2 separate regions of the Homo sapiens genome follow, and region 2 is linked to region 1. Evidence: fine-mapped expression QTL. Tissue or cell type: whole blood. Region 1 holds a variant in brackets; the other region holds the start of a gene. All regions are shown on one strand. Distances are between the middles of the regions.

The links. PIP is the estimated chance that this variant, and not a neighbour inherited with it, causes the effect.
Region 2: it holds the start of PBX3, and the variant in region 1 is fine-mapped to the expression of PBX3 in whole blood (TOPMed, PIP above 0.99).

The regions. Positions count from the first base shown.
Region 1 is chr9:125,823,792-125,835,187 of GRCh38, reverse strand. The region is part of intron 2 of PBX3 (PBX homeobox 3); the gene reads right to left. Among named protein-coding and RNA genes, the nearest start is that of PBX3, 82 kb to the right of the region's middle. The variant C/A (reference allele first, on the strand shown) is at 4,335.
Region 2 is chr9:125,745,366-125,753,563 of GRCh38, reverse strand. It overlaps PBX3 (PBX homeobox 3), which reads right to left and starts at 6,191. Exons shown (of 9, transcript NM_006195.6): 1 at 5,911-6,191; 2 at 4,941-5,014. The coding sequence starts at 6,110. It overlaps PBX3-DT (PBX3 divergent transcript), which reads left to right and starts at 7,635. Exons shown (of 2, transcript NR_122032.1): 1 at 7,635-8,148. RefSeq lists silencers at 5,217-5,556, 5,827-6,356, 6,367-6,416, 6,667-7,096.

The DNA.
Region 1 (11,396 bases):
CCTGGCACATAGTAAACACTCAATAAGTAGTAATTGTTATTTTTTATCCTATTTTGAGTGAGGATGGACTTTTTCCAACATTTAAGAGTTATCTGTATTGTCTTTTCTGTTACTTGTCTTTTCATATCTTTTGCCCTTTTTTTTTTTTTTTTTTTTTTTTTTTTTTTTTTTTGAGACAGAGTTTTGCTCGTCACCGAGGCTGGAGTGCAGTGGCATGAACTTGGCTCACTGCAACTTCTGCCTCCCAGATTCAAGCGATTCTCCTGCCTCAGCCTCCTGAATAGCTGGGATTACAGGCGCCTGCCACCACACTTGGCTCATTTTTTGTATTTTTGGTAGAGACGGGGTTTCGCCATGTTGGGCAGGCTGGTCTCAAACTCCTGACCTCAGGTGATCCACCCACCTCAGCCTCCCAAAGTGCTGCGATTACAGGCATGAGCCACCATGCCCAGCTGAGATTTAAATATTTCACAAACAAGTAAAAATAATTGGTCGGGTGAGGTGGCTCATGCCTGTAATCCCAGCACTTTGGGAGGCAGAGGTGGGCGGATCACCTGAGGTCAGGAGTTCAAGACCGGCTTAGTCAACTTGGCGCAACCCCCGTCTCTACTAAAAATACAAAAATTAGCCGGTCGCAGTGGTGGTGCCTGTAATCCCAGCTGCTCGGGAGGCTGAGGCAGGAGAATCCCTTGAGCCTGGGAGGTGGAGGTTGCAGTGAGCCGAGATCAAGCCATTGCACTCCAGCCTGGACAGAGTGAGACTCGGTCTCAAAAAAATAAAAATAAAAAAAACAAGTAAAAATAATTGATCCATTCTTAGTTTTAGCCACTATCACATCAATGTATCACCTTAAAAACTTGTTGAAAGGTGACATCTTTAGAGTTTTTCTTCCCTGTTCCCTCCTCAGCTATACTTCTCTGTCTCAGCTCATATTTTTCCTTCTCTTACAGAAACCTTCCCAAACTACTTTTTCTAAAGTCTCCCCCTACTTCAGTCAATACTTCATAATGTTTATCATGCTTCGAAATTATTCTATTTATTGACTTATTTATTATCTGTCTCCCTGCACTTAATTGTATGGTCTTTCAGGGCAGCATATTTGTCAGCCATAGTCATTGCTGTATTCCCAACATCTAGAAAAATCTCTGGCTCAGAGAAAGCAAGCAGTGTTTATCCAATTAATGATACTGTTTAAAGTTAAACTGAAATTGGAACCCTCTTGGAGTGCAGGTAGAAATACAAAATGGTACAGCCACTTTGGAAAACAGGCTGGCAGTTCCTCAAAAGTTAAACATAGTTATCTATGACCTAGCAATCCCATTCCAAGGTATATACCAAAGAAAAATGAAAATATATGTCTACACAAAAACTTATACACAAATATTCATAGCAGCATTATTCAAAATAGCCAAAAGTTTTAGACCACCTAAAACTTTTTAGCTTCAAGTACTCTGCAAGCCTCCTTTGAACGAAATCATATTACAAAAAGTTCCTAGAAAGTAAATTTAGTCTAAATAGGGAAAAACACAGAATTTGAATACATTTCAGTTTGAATCCACCTCTGTCACTTATTAGCCATACAACATTAGGTTAATCCTCAAGTTTTACTAATCTTCAAGTTTTCTAATCTATAAAATTAGGATATAAAATTTACGGTGGTATTATAAGGATTCAGCAATAAAACAATTTTTTTTTTTTTGAGACAGCGTCTCCCTCTGTGGCCCAGGCTGGAGTGCAGTGGCATGGTGCAATCAAGGCTCACTGCAACCTCCACATCCCAGGCTCAGGTGATCCTCCTGCCTCAGCCTCCCAAGTAGCTGGGACTACAGGTGTGCACCACCACGCCCAGCTAATTTTTCTATTTTTAGTAGAGATGGGTTTCTCATGTTGCCCAGGCTGGTCTCAAACTCCTGAGCTGAGGCAATCTACCTCTCTCGTCCTCCCAAAGTGCTGGGATTACAGGCATGAGTCACCACGCCTGGCCAATTTTTTTCATTACCAGTACATTCTTAGCATATTGCAGGAACTCAGTAAACACAAATTTCTTCTCCCTATTTGCTCCCCTTCCTAATTGTACTTCAATAATTAGCACCCAAGAATAAAGCTCAAAGAAATTTTCCTTAAACCAAGTTGCATGCTACAGCGGTTAAGATTACACAGATGCTGGAACTTCCCGAAATGACATAACAATGTAGGTACTTTTAAGTCTCACCAAACTCCCTCACAAAACCAGACAGAGCCATCAGGAAATAATAAACCACAGATGACATTTCCTACAAAAGCAGGTGACAAGGAATCCCTCCTAAACCCTGGAATTATAGATAGGTGTGGCCAAAAACACCCAACAGCAGCAAGACCTGTGATCAGCAGCTATATGAAGCAGTGGTGGTAAAGAGAAATACAAAAGGGTCCTAAAAGCCATGAAACCCAGAACTCACCAACAAATAAATACCTGCAAAGGGAAAAAGATCAATACTATCATATCTGAGAATCTAAGCAAGTGAATCTGAGGACAGTCACTTGCCATTCAGGCTCTAAGTCATGAGGGAAAACAATCCTAAGAATAGAAAAACTAATTAAATGACATAACTGTCTATCTCTTCAGTGAAATATAATTTGAGGACCCTCTCCCAAAAAACTGCACAGAAAGTTTTAACTTCAGTCAGTAGTCAATTGTTATCTGAAAACCATTAGGCTGGGCGCAGGGGCTCACGCCTGTAATCCCAGCACTTTGGGAGGCCGAGGCGGGTGGATCACGAGGTAAGGAGATCGAGACCATCCTGGCTAAAATGGTGAAACCCCATCTCTACTAAAAGTTCAAAAAATTAGACAGGCGTGGTGGCGGGCGCCTGTAGTCCCAGCTACTCGGGAGGCTGAGGCAGGAGAATGGCATGAACCCGGGAGGCAGAGCTTGCAGTCAGCCGAGATCGCGCCACTGCACTCCAGCCTGGGCAACAGAGCGAGACTCCGTCTCAAAAAAAAAAAGAAAGAAAAGAAAACCAGTATATATTTATAACAATATATAGAATAAATCAAGTAATTATCTTAATTTTGTTAAGAATAAATTTTTTGTCATAAAAGATATATAAATATAAAATCTAAGAACTTAAGTGAAACCCTGTAATCTTACATTTGAGTTAGAATTATCAATGTGAGCTCACTTATCTCCTCTCTTTTCCTGAAAGCAAACAACCCAGTAGCAATAAGTACCCTTAAGGCTCAAATTTTGGCCTTTGTATATCACTCCTCAATAAAAAGAACCATGGCTCTTTGGAGAAATGGCAGATTCTACATCTGGTGGAGGAAATGTACAAGATGAGCCTGGCACGTTTTGGTGGGCCAGAAAGTAAGAAGCTAAAAAAGCTAAAAATGGAGTCTTATCAGAAGGACACAGGAGCCAACTTGAAGGGGTTCCCACTGGACAAATGTGGTACAATTTCAGCATCAAAAAGTATAATGTCTGAAACTGATTAAAACACACTACATATACAAAAAGCCAACACTTCATAATAACTACTAAAAAAAATCAAAAGTTATACACCACTGGAGGATACTAAGGCACTACCTCATTACTCTGGAAATTGATAATTAAAGGGAAAGAATTAAATATTTTATACTGCCTTTCCAGTATGAATTGTATTTCTGGGTAACCAAATAGCCCTAGTGAATGGATAAAGCTCTTTTAAAACACTCTGGCTAATCGAGATCGCACCACTCAGCCTGGGCAACAGAGCGAGACTCCATCTCAAAAAAAAAAAAACATTCTGGCTAATAAATACAGAAAGAATAACAAGTGGACCATTTTCAAGGCCTAAGAAATTCAGTAATCCAGGCACTGGGTCATCCATAGATGGTAAAACCATTAGGTGAAAGAAGGGGAACTTTACAATGAAGAAATCAGGCTGGCACTACCTAATCCACTGATCAATCAGTCTTAGCATTGCAAAAAGTAAGATGACTAAACGTTATGGCTGATGTGATGCATGATGAATCTAATCAAGCTTTTAGATCTAATTCTAGTCTAGAAGAAATTCAGCAAATAGAAGCGTAAATTAAATACTGCCACAAGGAAATATCAGCCAAATCTAGAATTGGGGCATTCTACAGGAAAAACATTCTGATTTTTTCAGCAAGTCAATGGTATATGAAAAAGGACAGGTGGGGGGCAGGAGGAAGGAATGTGAATCTGCACGGAGATACAAAACAAGTATAACATATTAGTGGTTAAAGCTGACTGGTGGTTATACAGGAGTTCATTGTACCCTCTACTTTTGTGAATTTGGGGGAAATTTTATAATAAAAAGTAAGACATACACACCAATGAACAACAACAA[C/A]AAAAAAACCACAATGACTTAGAATCAAACAGCTAGAGTTTGAATCGCAGCTCTACACTTACTGTGAATGTGGACAAGTTACTTAGCTTCTTTAAACATGGTTCTCCTTCTATAAAATGGGAAAAATATTACCTCCATTTATTAAGTTTGAATGAGATAATAGACAAAATGTGTCTAGTACATAAAGAGCCCAGTAAATGTTAACCACTGTCATCATTAGTATTAATGTTATTATTATTATTACTATTATAGAGGATATGATAGCAAAGGCTTCTGTATAGTTCTTTATGTAAGTAGCCAATTTGGGGGGTTCAAAACTCTTATTTCATTTTCAAAAACACATATGATACACAAATATAAAACACCTATAAATAAGTACTTTTCTATTACTCAGCTTTTTGAAAATTAATAAACACAAACATTACTATCACCAATGTAACATTAAAGAAGTTTGTTTGTTTGAAATTTTATGCTATACTTCAGTTAAATTTAACTGACACAGTGCTATCAATATTGTATCTATAATTCTTCATAGTTCTATTGTTAAATTTACATTTTCCTTAACATGAACAATAAAATAGATTATATAACTAATAGCAAATCTAAGAAACATGCAAGGCAATATTTTTCAACTAAAAAATAAAAATATTCTTATTTCTAAACAAAATCAGTTGAATGCTCATATTACGTATGCTTTAGATAGCAAAAAATAACGCTTTTGTAAATAAAAAATTATACTGAACTCTACAGTGCTGAGACAACTGATAAATTTTTCCTTTCACTTTTAATCAAGCTTCCTGTTGTAAGAGCTCAGCAGACAGTGACGCGAGACACTGCCTCCCAACTTCAGTTCACCTTTGCAGTTCCACAAGGGACACCATGTCAAGATTGTTCAGCTTTTTTGATGAGTGCTGCGTGGGTAACTAATGTGTAAATGCAGATACGTATAGAAAGCAGTTTTGACAGTGATGTATTGCAACTGGTTCCAGATGTCGGTAAGGGATGCTTGGCCAGGCATCTAGAGCTCCACTGCCACGGAGCAGCACCAGGACCAAACCAGTCTTGAAAAGACCATGGCACTCTAACTCTTCAATTAGAATCTTCTTAAAACAATTATTTTGCTTCTCTTCTTTCAGAAAAACACTAAAATATTACTGCTTTGTTGCTCATTTTTTTTAATTTAAGGAAAGAGCTGACATAACAAGCCTAATAGTTTGGCTTTCAAAGGAAACTTCAAAGTGAATGGAGGAAATATTAAAAATGAAGCACATACTCATCTCCTATAATGAGTTTTTTAACTAAATTGCACCAAAACTTACGTATGTACAAAAGTTTAAAGCAACCCCTGACTAGCAAATTAAATGTTGAGATTACTCACCTAATATTAGAATTCTTAAGAATATCATCATAAATATGATACATATAATTATAAACCAAATCAGCAAGCTTATTTTCTCTTGCTGTCCAGAAACGTGACAAGTGTATATTAGCTAAAGAAAATGTACCTCGGTTGCATTTGACTTTAAAAATTAAATAATGAATCTTGTAATGATGTAGTTTGAGAATAAAATTCTAGAAATGGAAGACTGACAAGCAGCATGTGAATAAATGAATTTCTGGGCCACTAGCTAATGAAATACAGAGAGATGTATACAGAAATTCCAAAGTGAAAATATGTTATTACAATCATGCAACGAATCGTCTTTAACATTTAAAATTGATAAAGTTGCACTTTCTACATGAAAAATGTTGTAGCATGGCTCCAACACAAGCATTTGGTCTGATGGGAGTTTTTTCAAACAACCTGTCTGTCTCCCTCTTCTTTCAATACCAGACTCCCAGCTCCAATCAAAAAACCTCTCAGGGGATCACCTACAGCTACATTCTCGCCATGTGGTTTTGATATAAGGCATTTTCTCATTGATCAAGGGAGCTGCAGAAGCATGTGTTCTGTTTATCCTAGAACAAAGAAGGCGACTTACATTACTGATGTTCAGAATCAAATCAAAGGTTTTGAAATACTTTTAATAGGAATAAAGGCAAACAAATCTGTCAAACGACGTTTAGACTCAACGTTCCTTTTGATTTTCTAACAAATTGAATAAACTGAACATTCTAAACATATTACCAAACTTTTAATCTGTGAGAAGACCTTGTGGTCAATAACTTCCTATCATAAGTAAATTGTTTAACTATAGCTCAAAGTTACTATGTTTGGTCTGATATGACATGATATGCTAATTGAGGGTAGAAAGTAGTTTAAAAAACTGACCAATCTTATTTTTTCCAGATGGATCATCAAATGTTTTTCTAATCTTGCATTTTCTTAAATGACCAACTGGTAAAATTGTATTACCAGTTCTAATTGGCTTAGAATACAGAATGTTTCAAGATAGCAGAAGAGCTGTATTCATTCCCATCTCCCTTCTTATAGGGCTCTGTTTTGATAAATCATTATTGTGACTTGGTTTTTGTTCTATTCCTAATAAATTATGTTTAACAAATAAAAATATACTTTAATATAGCATTTCTATATAAACCATTTGTTGCTGTAAACTATGGAAAATTTGTCTAGGCAGTACATATATCTCAGTATCTCTGAGTATATATATCTCAGATCTGATAGGTCAAAAGCAAAATTATTACCCAATGAAAATGTGATGAAAATGTATTTAACTGAATGACTTCTGTGTTTATCTTGTTGGTTTACTAATAATTCAAAGTAAATCCTCTGGACAGCAAACTAGTACTCCTAAAAATACAAAATACACATCATTATATCCAGCAAAAGTCCAAACCTAAGGACTACTAATATCTGTATCCAGCAAATAAGGACACAGAAGACTAAGGTCCTAGATGAATTTAGTTTCTGATCCTTCCAAAATGCGTAGTTCCAGAACAAACCTCTGTATCAGTCTTATTACTGGTAGCAATATAAATTGGTACAACCACTTTGGAAAGCAATTTGGCAACATCAGATAAAGTTGGATATACACATACTCTATAAACCCAACAACTCTATTCCTAGTTATATACCTCAGAGGAATTCTTGCATATGGACAAAAATATGTGTACAAGCATGTTTATAATACCAAAATTTCAGATGAAATGTAAGCATCCATCAGTAGTGAAATGAATGTGAAGTTCATCTGCACGGTAGAATACTACAAAGCAGGTAAAACTAATAAAATCAATTCACGGATATCAAAATCAATGCAGTACATGTTGAAAACTGGTGAGCAAAAAATCAAGCTACAAAAAGATGTACAGTGTGTATATACGACACATAGGTATTACATATGTGTATATATACACATTATATTTGTCAATACTAAAAATACTAACATTATTTGTAAATACACGTATGTGTAGTAAAAGCATTTTTCACATGAGAAGAATATGTACCAACCATAAGATAAATAGGTACTAATTTGGGGTGGGGAAGTTAGTGAGCTGAACGGATGGGGAAACTTCAAACATATGTAAATGGATATTTTTTAAAAATAAATGTCTAAAGCAGAGATGGCAAAATGTTAACATTTATTAAACTTAACAGGAAGAAATAAAAGGCTATGTGTTTGAAATATTTCATAAGCAAAAATCAAAATGCAAAAAGTCCATATACCCTACATGGGTCTTTACTTCAGAATTACCACTAATAATTCATTCAAATACATTCATTGATATACTGCATAATTTTATTGGGTTAAAAGTTATGTCCCAATTTCACGTTCTCATTTATATGTGGGAGCCAAAAAAGTTGATCACACAGAGGTAGAGAATAGAGTGACAGACACCACAGACTGGGAGGGGTGTGGGTGGGAGGTGTGGATAAAGAGGGATTGGTTAATGGGTACAAACATACAGTTAGATTAAAAGTATAATTTCTAATGTTTGATAGCAGGGTAGAGTGACTACAGTTAGCAAGAATGTGTGGTATATTTCAAAGTAGCTAGAAGAAAGAACTTGAAATGTTACCAAACACAGAGAAATAATAAATACTTAAGGTGATGGATACCTTAAATACTCTGACTTGATCATTACACATTCTATGCATGCAACAAAATATCACATGTACACCATAAATATAGAAAATATTATGTGTCAATTAAAAAATATGTCCATAATTAAGGGTCAGAGCAATCCACTCTTCTGAATAAAGTCATCACACAATAAGTTGAACCATCTAAATACTTAGTACTGACATTACCTTTATTATATTTTTCAAATATTTAATATATCTTATGCATATATTTTCAAAGAAAAAAAGTGTGTGTCATCACCCAATAAGCTGAACTGTCTAAATACTTAGTAGTGACATTACCATATTATGTTTATGAAATATATCTTATGTATTCATTAGATATATTTTCAAAGGAAAAAATCCCATAATCACCAATGACCCTTCATTAATTTGTGAATATTCCAGACAAGCTAGAGTCGACAAGACTTATATTATCTGATTTTCAATTCTGTTTGAACTTCACATAAAAACATTTTGAAGAGAAAGGAAGGTTATTACTATATCATTTGTGACAAATAATCAAGATATGAGAATAGTAAATAAATTATTTGAATTTAAAGTTAGGAAGCACTTCTTTTTCAAAGAATCCTATATGTAAAATAATTGAGCCATGAAAAATGTTAAAACAGGTAAAAATCATGCCTCAAAAGAACCTGGTAAGATTGTGGTAAATAAAGGAATTTACTAGGCGAGAATCTCTATTCACTACAGGCAATTTTAGCTGTTTTCTCCTGGAATTAAATGTTCTATCCTAACTTCTGGAACTAGTTAAATATTAACGTTATTGCCTTTCTCAAAGATAATGGTAGAATTTAACTGGTTGAAAACTGCCACCCACAGCTAACATTTATAAAGTATCTCCCAATGCAAAATTAAACAGACTTCCTTCCAGGACATTCTAGGCAAGTTCCCAAATAAGATTCCTAAACTAAACAAAGCTACTACATTAAACTTGGCGATATCACAATCATGAATTGATCCTCTAAATGCCAAAATTGAGAGTAAAAAAGAAAAATGGACACTTGTTAGCAATACAGGATAGCAGAAGTACACAGTGATGCTTACTGATGAAATGAGGATACTTTCTAAATCAGTGGTTTTCAAACTGTGGCCCAGGTACCCGTGGGGTCACTGAGGTACCCTCAGGGCTCTGCAAGGTCAAAACTGTTTTCATAATTCATTAAGATGTCACATTTTCTGTTTTAACTCTAATTTGTTCATGAGTATACAATGAAGTTGACAACAGGCTACGTGAAGCATGGCATCACAACAGAATGCAGAAGGAAATATGAGAAAACAGCTGTTGAAGCCAGACATTAAAGAATTTGTTAAAAAAAAAAAAAAGTAAAACAATATCAATCATCTAATTTTTTATTTTGGAAATATAAGTTGTTTTTTATTTTAAAATGATACTTATGCTAACGTGTTATTGTTATTTTAAAATAAACTAATAAAATTTTTAAATTTCTAATACAGTAAATACTAATAAATATAACCCACATAAGCCAAAGCTTGCTAGGTTCTCAATAATTGTTTTTTTTTGCGGGGGACAGAGTCTCACTTTGTTGCCCAGTCTGGAGTGCAGTAGCACAATCTCAGCTCACTGCAACCTCCACCTCCCAGGTTCAAGCTATCCTCCCACCTCAGCCTCCTGAATAGCTAGGAAAATAGGTGCATGCCACCACGCCCAGCCAATTATTGTATTTCTTGTAGAGATAAGGTTTCGCCATGTTATCCAGGCTGGTCTCGAACTCCTGAGCTCAAGTGATCCACTGCCTCAGCCTCCCAAAGTGCTGAGATTTCAGGCGTGAGCCACTATGCCTGGCAATTCTCAATTATTTTTAATTTTAAATGTGGTATGGAAAGAGATCCTGAAAACAAAAAGTCCGAGAATCAGTGGCCTAAATCATAGAGTTGATACAAGGATTAAATGAACTAATGCATGTAAAGCACTTTTCACAACGCATGGCAAACAGTCAACGTTCAGTCAATGGTAGCTATCGTTATTGTTACATAACAACAGCTGCGGCTACAGATAGCAATGCTGAGATCAGCCATTTCTGGAGACTTTGTTGTCCCCCACTGTCTAGTAAGCAATGAGTATTTAAAAAAAAAAAAAAGCCAACTGATTCATCAAATGTAATTCATCATATAGATTCTAATTTAAATTCTAATACAATCAATAAGAACCTGTTAGTCTGAAAGACTGTATCTTTCTAGACCCTGTTAACTTCCTTATAAACTAGGAAGGCCTAGGACTAGACTTACAATATACCTTGGAGACTAGAGTTATCTTGTCCTTTGAGACACCTGGAAAACAGCAATGAGAAGCCTAAGTGTCCTGTGCACAACAAATTAATTAAATATGCATTCTCATAATAAAGAAAGGTATACTTTCCTTTGAAATACTGGATCAATAAGGCATCATGGAATAACGGAACTGTGGACAGGCCCTTGAGCATGCTTCTGGTTAAGATTCTTCATTCCAGGCATATCTAGCACACACCCAAGACAGATCAACAGGTACAGAGACTCACAAACGGACCAGTCATTTTTCACTCTAGTGGTTACGTAGCCCCTCTACAAATCAAACCACAATCTTTCTTACTTTCACTTTCAGGACACTTCCTTATGTTTCATCCTTTATTGATAAAGCTAAAAATAATAATAGTAGTTGTATACAGAGGTCAAACACCTGGCATCAAGCTCATAAAAATCCTTTAACCCTTTAGCCTACATTTTTTTTTTTTTTTTGAGACAAAGTCTTGCTCTGTCACCCAGGCTGGAGTGCAGTGGCACGATCTCAGCTCACTGCGACCTCTGACTCCCAGGTTCAAGCAATTCTCCTGCCTCAGCCTCCTGAGTGGCTGGGACTACAGGTGCGGGCCACCATGCCTGGCTAATTTTTGCATTTTTGGTAGAGATGGGGTTTCACCATGTTGGCCAAGCTGGTCTCGAACTCCTGACCTCAAGTCATTCACCCACCTCAGCCTCCCAAAGTGCTGGGATTACAGACATGAGCCACCGCGCCCAGCCTA
Region 2 (8,198 bases), 80 kb after region 1:
TTTTTATTGGGAAGAAAAAAATAAAGAACAGGATTGGAAAATGTCTCTATATTTTAAAGATAATATCCACATGATACTTTAGATCATGAGGTTCTAAACCAGCTTGGCAATGAGATTTTTCTCCAGGTTTTCTACAAATGTATTATATGTGCTATTTTGTTAGGATGGAAATGGAAGAATAAAGAAGTAGAAAAATCCCTTTCTTTTACAACTTCTCTGAAAACCTCCTACAAAAGCTCCAGTAAGATACCAAATCTATAAAAATAGAAAAAAAAAAAGGTAAAATATTAAGTTAAGAAAAATATATTGATAAAGCAATATAATTTATAACATTTCCAAGATACTCTGACTTTGTATTTTTCCTGTTTAATCACTTAATATTTCCAATATAAGCAGACCTAATGCTTAAAATTGATATGAAACTTAAAACATTAAAGAACCATTAAAATTTGCTTCAAAATAATTTTGGAATGGTGGGAATTACAGAGAAAACACGACTGGCCAAGTATTGCTAATTGCTGAAGATGGGCACTGAGTTCATGGGAGGTTCAAGAGTCTCTGCTCTCTGCATGTTATGTTTCAAAGGTGTCCACAATAAAAAGTTGTTAAAATCTTGAAAATAAGTTCATTAAAACAAAATGTGTTTCATGAAAACACAAAAAGGAATCATGTATGGAACAGTGCATTTGTTTTTAAAACTTGAAACAAAAGATGATAATTATATTGGAAATAGTGCAAGAGCAACTTAAAAGCATATGCAAAATATATAATAACATTTAGACTAATATATAACAATTTTCACCTTTCTTGCTAAATTTTCACTTGAAAAAATTGATTTTTACATATGTAGAATTAAAAGAATCACACAGCACTGTACAAAGAAAAATGTAACAGATTTTTATATTGAAACCTTAAAAAGAGAAGCACACCAAAAAAAGACTCCAAAGAGTCTCTAAACCTGTGGGTTCACAATTAAATAGAGAGGTGTCGAATGACAGTACTGCCTTGTCTCTTTGAAAGCTAGTCACACTTCTAGCAATAAAGATAAAAGGTTTAATCTCACATCATATACTAAATGCACATAAAACCTCACTTGTAAACTATACTCTTGATCTAGTTTTAATATCTAAAATTCTTATGACTCTTTCTAGGGAGGGTTCCTTTAAAAGTAAGGCATTTTTACTAGTCATTTTCTTCTCCTTAAACATAAAAAATACTTCAACCAGCCCAACCAACCAAGCAGGCCTTTCTCTTCCCCTGCGGACACCTCCTGCAGTAGAGAAGTTCATTAAGTTTTATGATCTTCCCAAGTCAGTCCTACTTATAAGCCTCACAAAGGCTACAAATCTGGCAAACCATCATGTATGCCATTAGACATTACTAGTAAATGAACGCTATTTAGGGTTTGTGGTGGCAATAAATCAGAGTTTGGTTGGCAGCCATCAACATGGAGTATTTTAACCTATTATTTGAAAAGGAAAAGGTTGTGTTTATTTTTTTTCATGCATAACATTTTTCACAATAATGTGATTCATATTATCTACTAAAATGTGGGATTTCATTTAAAAAATAAATATTTTTTTCTTGAAAAAGAACTATTTCCTTCACTTAAACTCGCACAATTAAGGGCTTTGGAAAGAAGACAAGATTTTTCAGGATGAAATATTTCACAAAGGAAAGCACTTCAACAATTAAGATTAAGATGACCAAAAAGAGGTGGGGGCATACACCAAAAGAGGTATGCAGGTGAGCAGACCTTGTGGCATCAGGGATATTTAATAAGAGACAGATGATAAAATATGGCTTTAAAAATCAGGAGAAAAATCTTAACATATCAACAATAATCTCACTGGTTACTTGGTTTAAAATAAACAACTATTTTTATTTTAAAGCCTACAACTTTTTGGGTGCTCTCAAAATGCACAAATATCACAATTCAACAATGAGAGACATTTCTGCCCAAAAATAATGGTATGATCAATTTTACGAAAGAATATATTCTCAAGAAAAAGCAGCATCTTATAGTAGAAGTATACTTTCCTTACCTCTCAACAAGAAAATAATATAATTGTAGTAGATTACCCATTTATCTGTCAGAAGGGAAAAATACCTTTTCATATATGGTAGAGGGGGAAACAGATGTTTTCTAAACTAAATCCCCCATGTGCATAAGAACTGGCAGTGTTCACTGCCTGATCAGAAACCTCAAAATCCACTGGCAGAGCTACAAATAAACAGATTTTTTTTAAAATGATTTTGTTTTGTTTTAGAAGAAAAGCACAACTGAAATGACATTATCCACTGAAATGACAGTTCACCCTCAACCCCCTTCATTAAGCAGAATAGAGTCATCAACATAATGTTTCTGGTTTCTATTCATAAATGACTAGGTAAACTTTCTCTAAATTACAAAGAATTAATTTTTAGGTATTATTAGATTAAATAAAATGATTTTTAAAAAATATTTATGCAATATACATATATTCTACAATGTTTCTTTTATAAGTTCATGTTTCTAAAGCATGACCGACTATGGAAGCAGGAGTGGGGGGGCTTGGAATTTGCAGCCCCGCTTTCTTTGCTTTGGTAACACTAATGTCTACACAGCTGTTTTATTTCGAATTGAGGATTCTGAGTCCCTGTCTCATTCTAAGACTAGTTTTGGAGAGTGAGGTGAAGCTATGGGTAGTAGGGGAGAATGGAAAGAAGAGAAAGAGCTTCACCCCCATCAATCACTCAGTACTTAAATCCCATCCCTCTCGAGCTTAGAGAGGCTAGCAGGAAGATGCCTCTACCCAGACAGCCGCCTTTACTCTTTGTCGGCTGTTGGCTTTTTACAAAAGAGATAACGTGCAAATGTGGATCCACTGGCCAAAGCACAAAAAGAGAATCTAATTTACAAGTTATCACTGAAAGCCCCAGAAACAATTTTAAAACACAAAAATTTCTTTTGTCAGCTGCCTCTTGGTTTTTAAATAGCAATAGCCCTACCAAAGCTCTCTCTGCCAGTAATCCCAGACTTTGAAAAGATTTGTTTCTTTTTCGTAACTCACCTTTGACATGTGGTTGACTATACTTTCCTTTCAGAATGGTGTAACTAAGTCCTGTGCAAATAAGCAACTAAAGGACTTATGCTTCCTAATTGAATTCTGCCTGCTGCTAAATGTCTCAACATGAAAAGCAGTTTGCTGGGTTTAGTTCTCAAGCTAGCTAGGCCAAAACTTTAAAAAGGCAAAAATAAATAAATAAATACAAATAATGAGAAGGGGATGAGAAGCGATAAGTATCCATCCCCTCTCCCTAGTAATATAAGGCTGTATAAAGTCGAATCAATCTTAATATTCACAACATAGTCAATACCCCAGTGCTTGGCTGTCAGCAGAAACTGAAGTGGAGCCCTGATAGCAGGAAAACCCTTGGACACTAAGCATCAGAATTTACTGAGAATTGCATACTTTTAAGCTTCTAAACTAAGAATCTTCAAGACTGAATGCTAGATGTCTTATTTTACAGTCAGATAAAAATTATCTACTGCTTTAAATCAAAACGCTTTCTAAAGGTAGCTAAAAATCAACACAAAATAAAAGTTAGTAATTCAAGAAAGGATCACTGAGCATTAAGAAACCAGCCATAATATGTGAATGAAAACCAGGAAAAGTACTCTTTGGCCTCCCTTATTATTTGCTGCTTATTATGGTTTAGCATATATATTTAATAGACAGCAATAACTCATCATCTTTTCTTGATTACTTTTAGGATCAGAATAGTATTGCAAAGCGAAAAACCTGTTTCAAAGAAGGCTGACTCGCCTATCAACCTAACAATTATTTGCACTGTGCTATTTGTACACTCAATTTAAACACAATCACATGTAACCTTCTAAATAGCCTCCCTTGGATAGTGCTATATCCTGGACTTCAACTTTTTCTCCTTTGCCTCAACTTTCAAAATGGCAACTTTAAAATACCATACATCCAACACACACCAAAAAAAAAAAAAAAAAGAAAGAAAAGAACAGGAAAAAAATAAACAGTAGAGCTTGTTTAATGTACTTGTTTGCCACATACAGGGAAGATAATGCCAAATACAAACTAAAACATCCAAATCTCTGCTTCAGTTTGAGCAGTTACCTCACGTCAAGACTGAAAGACCTTCAATTAATAAAGTCTGACAAGAAAGTTAAACTGAAACGAATTGCCAAAAATTTGCCAAATATGTACCTGTAGTTTTCATTCCAGCACTTCTGCAAAACCTATCTTCTTATATATTCCCTGACTTGGACACTTCAAAATTGTTTAACCTGCATCTGTAGACCTTTTTATACTTTATATATTAAGCACAGTTACAAGTGTAATGACTTCAGAATACAAAATAATACAAGTATTAACAGATGTAATACATCGTATGTGTCTACACATCATTACCCTTCCTCGATTCTCTAAAGTAGCCTTCCCACCTAAAACACTAATTCAAGCATGCTACTGGGGTCTGTTCAATTGCATCTATTCTTCTATCCGTGCAGCTGAAGCTTAAGACTGTCTAAGTAAAACAAAGTTCGGGCGATGCTTCTCCCGGGGACTCGGTCCTGGCATCCAGTCTCCCGTTGCTCCTTTTAAAAACTGACACACAAACAAGGCGAAAGGAGAGGGAAGAGGGCGGCTGGCGCTCCGGGCCCCCTCCCCGCCTGCAGCCAGGGGCGGCCGCCGAGGGACGGCGATCCAGCCCGGTCCGCACCTACACTTCATTTTACACCAGGAGCAGAACTGAGAAATTGACTCCAGATTTATTGCAGTTTTTTCTCAAGATCAGGACGTGGGAAGGAGAGAATGATCAAAGATGGCGGTGCCCAAAAGCAGCAGCTCTCAACTGGAGAGTCGAAGGAGTAGCTCCGACCCCCACCTCGGGGGTCTCCAGGCCCACTGCGGGGCGCAGCGTCTTACCTGTTTTCTCTTTGATCTCACACAGGACGCTGAAGAGCGCTGGTTTCATTCTGTGACAGTTCAGGGCATGTTTCCTAAAAAACAAATAACGAAACACAAAGGTATTAGCATCACCTATGGAATAATATGGCGCCTTCCTTTAAGTTAGACCCAAGATTTAATTCCAGCCCCCCATTCTGGAAGGCCCTTTTGAACCGTGGGAAGTCAACAAAAACTCCAGTTGACTAGTTCCCGACAGCCAGCAAGCCCCGGCGGCGAAAGCTGCAGCCGGAACAAGGCGGACCCATCTGCCCGGCAGGCAGCAGCCTCGGCCACTGCAGACGCGACGCGAACCCGCGCGGGGAGCCTCGCCCCGGGGGCAGGCGAAGGCGACCCGGGGGAGGGGACGGGTGCGGAGGGGCTCCCGCGTCCGCTCCTGTGCAGAGGAGGCCGGCCGACTGCGGCCAGCGGGAGGGTGACAGCTCGGCAAAGTTTGCAAGGCGGCCCTCCCTCTCCGAGAACTTGGCCGTCCGCACCCGGACCCGCCAGGGAACCGCCCATCGCCCCGCGCCGGGCCCGGGTGGCCGCCCGCATCGCGAGGTCGTCCCGCGGCCGCGGGAGCCGGCGCCGGGACTCCCCGCCGGAGGAGAAAGTTACACTTCCCGGCGGCGCGGCCCGCACGGGGTCGGGGCGGGAGGTTTAAATCCCTGGGAGGGGGCCGGGCTGCGAGGGGCAGGACGGGGGAAAGGACGCCACGGAATCCGCGCCGCACCGAGTCCGTCCCGAGCCCCCCAGAGCAACTTTGCCGACTCCCGCCCGCTTCGGGGGGCGCGGGCAAGTCCCCCCGAGGCCGGGGCGGGCGGCCGGCTTTCGGAGAAAGTTCCCCGCCGGGGGCTGCGGCCCTAGCCCCGGGCGCCACCCCGGGCCTCGACTCGGCCGCGGGCCCGGCTCCCGCACACACACAAAAGATGCTTAATGAGACGACACCAACTTTGCTTGCGCCTCGTCCAAGCTCTGGTCGGTGATGGTCATGATCTGGTGGAGGATGTCGCCGATGTCCTGCTTCCTGCCGTCGCCGTCCGCCCCTTCGTGGCCGTGCGGGGGAGGCGGCAGGGCCATGCCCCCCTGCACCGAGTGGCCAGCCAGGTTCACCCCGGCCAGAGTCTGCAGCATCCTGGATTGATCGTCCATCCCGCCGCGCGCGGGCGGGAGCGGGCGGCGGCTGAGGCGAAGGCTGAGGCGGCGGCGGCGGCGGCGGCGACGAGGGAGGAGAAGAAAGAGGGGGAGGGGGAGGGGGAGGCGGCCGCGCGCTCCCCGCCCGCGCGGGGAGGGGGCGGCCCGGCCGGCAGGGCCCGCGGCTGAGGCGATGAGGACGGGCGCCCGGCTCCGGCTTCCGCCGCCGCCGAGGCTGAGGAGAAGCGGCGGGCGGAAGCGCCGGGCTCCGCGGCGGTGGCGGAGGCGGAGGCGGCGGCGCCCGCTGCCCTCACGCGGCCGCCGCGCCGCCTCCTCGCCGCCGCGCGCCCCGCCGGGCGGCCCCGCGCAACTTGCTCCTCAGCGCCCGCCGAGTTGCCGGGACGCCCGCCGCCCCCCGCGCCAGCCTGCGCACTGCCCTCCTCGGCCGCCGCCGCCGCCTCGGCCAGGCGGGATCCGAGCCCCGGCGGCCCCGGGGGAGGCAGCGGCGGCGGCGGCGGGCGGCGGCGGAGGAGGAGGCCTGCGGGCGGGCCGCGGGGAGCGAGGGGGGGCGGAGGAGGAAAGTTTGGGAGCGGGCGGGCAGAGGCGGCGGGGGCGCTGAGCCCGGAGGAGGGCCCCGGCGGGCCGCGCGCCGGGCGGACAGCCGATGGATAGGGCGGGAGAAGTCGCCGCCGCCGCCGCCGGAGCCGCGCACCCAGCCAGCAGCCGCCGCGGACCGGGCTGGAAGGCCGCTGGGCCGAGGGATTGACAGGCTGCCAGTGCCACTCACTCACTGCGGCCCCGCGCCGGGGGGAGGGACGGGGGCTGGCAAGGGCGGGGGAGCGCTCCTCAGACCCCGCCCCCGGGGCGGTGCGCGCGCTCATTGGGCTCTGCGCCTCCCGCCGCCGCCGCCGGCACCGCCCCCGGGGCCCGGCCCGTTCCCTCTGGCCTCTGATACTCCGCGCTCCGGAGTGTGCCGCCGGATCCTCGCTCCAACCTCGTCGCGTCCTAGCCCCCCGGGATAGACCGGGCCGGCCCACAAACGGTGTGCCCGCACCCCGACTCCTGCTCCATGCTTTTGGCAGTCATGGGAGCGGGGGGTTGTGTATGGGACAGTGGGCAACTCGCTGCAAAGCCAACCGTGTGCTCCCCCGCCGCGCCCGTGAGCTTCACGCCTCGGACAGCTCCTGGTGCACTTTCCCGCTCTTCCTGTCAGGAGGTGGTGCCCTCTGGGTACCAGGCCGCTCGTCCCGGGCCAATCGCAAAGCGCTTAGAGCCGAATGGGGCGGGACAGAGGCAAGAAAGGGTCGTCCCAATTGGAGCGTTCGAAAGGTTCTGGGCAGAGGCGGGGAAGCGGCGAGTGGGGGCCTCGCCCCGCCTGCGGTCGCCATGGTAACCGAGAGGGCGCAGCTCAGCGTTGGCGCCAGCACCGGGGTCTTGTGCTGTCCCTCAATGGGTGACCAGTTAAGGTGGGAACCTGTGGTCTCACATACTTGAAGTCTGAGCTGAGTGGACCTGACTGCCATAGACTTTCCATTGAAAGGGGAAATGTGTCAGAGAGAAGCGAGTCTGGGAGGAGGGAAAGTGCCTTCAGTCCAGGACTAATTTCAAGGTTTACAACACTTTACACACTCTGCAACTCCTGATAATCCAGGGACTACTCCTTTGGCAGCGTTTGCTATTCGATGCCTCCAGATGTACTGAAGCTGCAAAAACGAGCTCTTCATTACAAAGATACGTTTGTTTAGGAAGAGACTGGATTTCACTTGTCAACTTACCCCATCACCACGAGTCATTTAATGTTGGTAACGCCAGCCACGATTTTTCGTATCTATAACACCCCTTCTTCCATTGAATTCTACCTACAAATAACTGAAGGCTCACATTATTTTGGAATATGGACCTCCGCCTCTTGTGGAGACTTGAGATTGCTCTTAAGCTGATTTCCCAAACAGGGGCTGCAATGTGTGTTCCCGATTTTAGATTCATTGAGCTCACCCTAGATGAGTCCTTTGGTTCGGTGGTTCGGAAAAGTCTCTTTGTTCCTTCTCCAAACTCAGTAAGCTGTCTTACCTGAAACCAAAAATAGGGGTATGAGGATATGAAAAA